Linked DNA regions of Homo sapiens: region 2 is linked to region 1. The links come from fine-mapping of genetic effects on gene expression. Tissue or cell type: whole blood. Region 1 holds a variant in brackets; the other region holds the start of a gene. All regions are shown on one strand. Distances are between the middles of the regions.

What was found. PIP is the estimated chance that this variant, and not a neighbour inherited with it, causes the effect.
Region 2: WFDC2 starts here. The variant in region 1 is fine-mapped to the expression of WFDC2 in whole blood (TOPMed, PIP above 0.99). The same link has a PIP of 0.9 or more in cerebellar hemisphere, cerebellum, hypothalamus, nucleus accumbens and prefrontal cortex.

The regions. Positions count from the first base shown.
Region 1 is chr20:45,426,047-45,428,806 of GRCh38, forward strand. It overlaps PIGT (phosphatidylinositol glycan anchor biosynthesis class T), which reads left to right. Exons shown (of 12, transcript NM_015937.6): 12 at 1-195. It overlaps LOC105372631 (a long non-coding RNA gene), which reads left to right and starts at 1,376. Exons shown (of 4, transcript NR_159957.1): 1 at 1,376-1,499. The variant C/CGTG (reference allele first, on the strand shown) is at 1,394.
Region 2 is chr20:45,468,275-45,470,774 of GRCh38, forward strand. It overlaps WFDC2 (WAP four-disulfide core domain 2), which reads left to right and starts at 1,479. Exons shown (of 4, transcript NM_006103.4): 1 at 1,479-1,586; 2 at 2,115-2,258. The coding sequence starts at 1,508. RefSeq lists silencers at 2,144-2,333, 2,354-2,403.

The sequences.
Region 1 (2,760 bases):
ACCTCTATATTGAGGTGCTCAATAAGCAAAAGTGGTCGGTGGCTGCTGTATTGGACAGCACAGAAAAAGATTTCCATCACCACAGAAAGGTCGGCTGGCAGCACTGGCCAAGGTGATGGGGTGTGCTACACAGTGTATGTCACTGTGTAGTGGATGGAGTTTACTGTTTGTGGAATAAAAACGGCTGTTTCCGTGGTTCTTTGCCTCTTGTCCTTGAGTCCTGGGAAGAGCTGGGGACTGGGGATTGTTTGCTGAGTGCCTGAACAGGACCTCCTACCCTATGCCTGCAACCCCCTCCACAAAAAACAAAAAACCCTACCTCCTCCCACCTGGCCGGAAATTTCTTCTCCTGATCTGCTCCCCCTGTCCTCCCCATCCCCATCTGATTGTGATTCCCAGAACTCCCCGGGTTGTTTGGGAGTGTTTCTGAAAGCATAATCCATGGCCATGGAAATGAATCATCCTACTTCTTGGGGGCATTGAGAGTCAGTCCACATCAGCAAGGGTAGAGTGGAGAGGTGGGAGGGCTCTGGGTGGTGGGTCTCTAACTGTAGTGTGCATCAGAGTCACTGGGGGCACTTGTGAAAATAATGTATGTTCCTGGGGTCCAGATCCTACTAATTCAGTTGGTCTGGGTGTGGCCCAGACTTTGACTTTTTAGCAGGCTTCTCAGGAGCTCCTGCTGTGCTCTGTCCTCAGACCACCCCCAGGCTTTGAAGCCAGGCTCATTGGATTGAAGCCCGCCCCGCCCACCTCCCTTGCTGGTTACATAACCCTGGATTTCTGTAAAACAAGCCTTTAGGCGGTTGCCTCCCACTGCCCTCATCTTCTGTCTTTTCCTCTGGCACACTTGGCATCAACTGTGTGTTATTTGCAGTTCCCCCCACCTCCTACCCCACTCAGTTCTCCCATCATAGTGGTTTGGCCTAGAATGCCCTATTCCACCAACCATGCACACCTCTCAACTGCCTGGTTCCCTCATAAAACCAGATGAGGCTGGCCGGGCACGGTGTCTCATGCCTGTAATCCCAGCACTTTGGGAAGCCAAGGTGGGCAGATCACAAGGTCAAGAGATCGAGACCATCCTGGCCAACATGGTGAAACCCCGTCTCTACTAAAAATACAAAAAAAAATTAGCTGGGCATAGTGGCGCGCGCCTGTAGTCCCAGCTACTCGGTAGGCTGAGGCAGGAGAATCGCTTGAACCTGGGAGGCAGAGGTTGCAGTGAGCCAAGATTGCGCCACTGTACTCCAGCCTGGTGACAGAGTGAGACTCTGTCTCAAACACACACACACACACACACACCCCAGATGAGAAGTTGCTGCCTCCGGGAAGTTTCCCTTGACGTGTCCGTGCCCCACGCCTTTGCTTCCAGATTGCCTTGGACTTAACA[C/CGTG]GTGTTCCTTATCAGCTGGCTGCTGTCCTTTGACTTCCACCAGATGGTGTGCTTCCTGGAGGCACAGGTTCTGTCTTTCATTAAGACCTGACCCATCTCAGGACATGTAAGTGCTCAATCAGCAAACGCTAAATGTATTAACTGGGTATGGGCTATTCTGGCTTGAGATCTGGGATCCAAGATAGGGATGGGCAAGGGGCACTCTGGAAGCTCCACATGTGTGAGTGCAGCAGTCTTAACACAGTGGTACAGGTGTCTCTGTAGCCAGCATAGATGGGCTGTGTAGGTTCCTTGAAGGGTTTTAGGAGCCCTCAGCACATGCGGGTGGTATGTGTGCATATGTAGGAAGGAAAGGCGGTGAGCTAGTCTAGACCATGGGCAAAGGCAATTTGTTCAAGGTGCTTTTACTTGAGTTTACTTCAAAAGCAGTAAAGGAGCAGACTGTAAATGAGACAGGAACGCAGGTGAGTGGATACACAAAGCTAAGTGGTCTGTGTAGTGTGCCTAGTGTGGGATGGAGCATGCATAGCATGGGGTGTCTGCCAAGTCAGAAGAGCACAGAGCTGTGGCCTGGCTCTCTTTTATACCCGCAGCCCTGTCAGTACCTAGAAACGACCTCCACTACCATGCCACATGTAACCTACGCTCTGGCAACACCCACATATTTCTAGATCAGACCTCCTCCCTGGATCTTGGATTCATTTACCCAACTGCCTACTTGCTTTCTCCATTTGGATGTCTAAAGACATCTCAAATTGAATATCTCCAAAACCGAGCTTCTGATGTGCTCCACCCCACCCCAAACAGGCCCAACCATAGTCACCTCATCTCTGTAAAAGGTAATTCGTGTCTTTCCAGGCACTCAGGCCAAATACCTTTGAGTCATCCTTGTCTCTCTCTCATCCTGTTTGCACCCTACCTTCAAAATAAATCCAGAATCCCACCCCTTTTCACCACCTCCACTATTATCAGTGAGGTTTTCCCTGGCCATACCCTATTTCAAATTGCTATCCTAGCACGCTACATTCACCTGGGGAACTGAAAAAATCCTGATGCCCAGGCTTTACCCAAACCAGTTAAATCAGAATTTAATGTGGGACTCACAGAGTCTCCAAGTGACACCAATGTGTAGCCAAGCTTAAGAACTTGGTCTTATTTTTAAAGTAGTATGAAAACTTACTGTCTCTCCTAAGCATTCTAACAATGGATACTTTTCAGAATAAGATTGTGTAAAACAGAGAACTCACTTTTAACTTTATAACAATTTATGTATTGTTTGTCTTTTTAAAACAAAAGTATATGTTGAGTTTATAATAAAAGTAAAAATTTGGGCCGGGCGTCGTGGCTCACACCACTCCCAGCACTTT
Region 2 (2,500 bases), 42 kb after region 1:
CTGGGGGAGGTGTTCTCAGCATCCATTTTGGGGACAGTGGCCAGATGTACTCACATCACCAAACCCTACTCACCTGTCACTATCATCCCAGTGTTCACTGCCCCAGGGCCCCTCTAGCCTCCAGCAGCAAAGACCTCCTGGGGCTTCTAGAACCTCAGATCATTGGAGCAGGAAGCACTTCTTGTCTAACTCCCTGGGTAACTCTGTTTTGGCACTTAACCCCCTGGATTCTAAAGCTTCATTTATACTTATTGGTCTCCTTCGTCACAGGAGACACTTATCTGTGGAGCACTCATGGCCATGTATCCAGTACCTATCATGGGTCAGGCCTGGAGTCCCTGTGTCAATCAGTGTGGATCTACTCTCAATGCTCCCAGTGAGTACATGGTTGTTCCGTGGCAGGAACGTTGCATTTGTGTTCTCACTGAAGTCCCATATAGGTGTCATTTTCACTGATGATGTGGCAGCTCAGATCCAGGAAAGGATTCATTCCAGGGCCCTCAGGTGGGAAGTGGTGGAGGTGGGAGTCAGACCCCAGACCCTGTCACCCCTTCAAGACCAGTGCTGGAGGGCCCCTTTTGACGACTTTCTCTTCACCAAGCGTCTTGCCCTGCATATGTCACACAGTAGGCACCCAGTGAATATTTACGACGGAATGGAAAAAACAAGGGCCTGGAGGGAGAGACCTGGGTTCAAAACCTTATTTGTACAGCTTTGCAGGGGACCTTGTGGTGGAGGTGCGGTCCTAAATCCCTAAACACTCAGTTCCTTTGTCATATACAGCTGATAACAGTAACTCCCCGGTCAGAGGACCGGCGACAATTCCTTGAGACAAGGAGCACAGAGCCTGGCACAGTCAGCCCTGATCAGGGGCCGGTAGGACAAAGAGAGGGAGACAGAAACACACACCCAAACGGCTTGAGACTGCTAGGTGCTTCACCTTCCTGGGCCTGTTTCTGATGAGGAGGGTTTGTTTATTAATAATAAGTGCTATTTCTGTAGCCCCTACTATGTGCTCTGTATCACTACCCTAGCCCTCCATCAAGAGGGATCTGCCCTCTCATCTGGCTGACCCCAAATCGAACCCTTTAACCCGCATGCTCTACTGCCTCCCTGCGGGCCCTGCCTTATCCTCCTCAACCGCCCACTGGGGACACTCTGGAGAAACCTCGGAGTCTTGGAATAGAAACCCAGGAGCCCTGAGCCTTGGCCCTCAGGCCCCAGGAGGGAGGTCAGGAGGGAGGCGTGGACAAGGGTCCGGCCGTAGCTGGTCCCGTCCTGGAAGCTGCTTAAGTTCCTGGTTCCCACCGGGGCCAAGAGTGATACCTGATCCTGGGGGATTGTGAAATGACCTCATGTGGCAGCCCGCCCGCGGTGCCCGCAAAGCCCTCCACCCTCCCCTTCCCCGCTCGGCTCCACCCCTACCCCACGCCCCCTCCCGCGCGCGCGGTTAAATCCCCGCACCTGAGCATCGGCTCACACCTGCACCCCGCCCGGGCATAGCACCATGCCTGCTTGTCGCCTAGGCCCGCTAGCCGCCGCCCTCCTCCTCAGCCTGCTGCTGTTCGGCTTCACCCTAGTCTCAGGTGAGTGGGGCGGGGAGAGGCCCGGCGCCTAGAGGGGCCGAGCCACGAGCGCCAGGATGGAGCCAGGCGGAGGCGTAGCCTCTGGAGGCTGGGGAAGTGGGAATTCCGGGGGCGGAAGTGGCGGGGACCCTTGGAGCCTAGGGTGTGGGGTCCAATGTGCTGGAGGTGGAGAGACCACTGATGGCTGCAATTTGGGAGGATTCTGTGCTGAACGCGGACACTCCGTGGCTGCAGTGGGCTGGGGGTGGGGGCTGCTCTGCCTCGACCTCGGAAGCTCCGAGACGCTCAGCTGTGCGGCGTCCCCTAGGGCTGAGATCTGAGGGCCCCGACGCCAAGGGTTAGGGAGCTCTCGTACTCCCAGGGGTCAGGGACTCCTGGTCTGGAAGAAGGAGTCTCTGGGGGCTGTAAGGGGACTCCTAGGGCCAGAGACTGAGAATTCCTTGGGGTTAAGGTTTGGAGCAGGAGGTGGGCATCCTCTGGGGCTGGCGCTACGCCCCACCCTCGACTGTCCCGGGCCTCCCCTCCCAGGCACAGGAGCAGAGAAGACTGGCGTGTGCCCCGAGCTCCAGGCTGACCAGAACTGCACGCAAGAGTGCGTCTCGGACAGCGAATGCGCCGACAACCTCAAGTGCTGCAGCGCGGGCTGTGCCACCTTCTGCTCTCTGCCCAATGGTAACCCCACGGCGGCCGAGCGGGAACGGGGCGGGGCCGCGCTGGGCTGGGAGGAGGTGGGAGGGCCCGGGTTCCGGGAACAGGGGCGCCCCCGGACCCGGGGACCCCCGGGAAAGTCAAGGCGGTTGAAACCAGATCCGTCAGTCCTCTCCCTCGCACGGCCCAGGGGTAGACAAAGGCGTCGTTGAAACGCAGCCAAGGGGGGGTCCCCACCCCTAGCTGGGATTCGAGTCTCTGGTGCA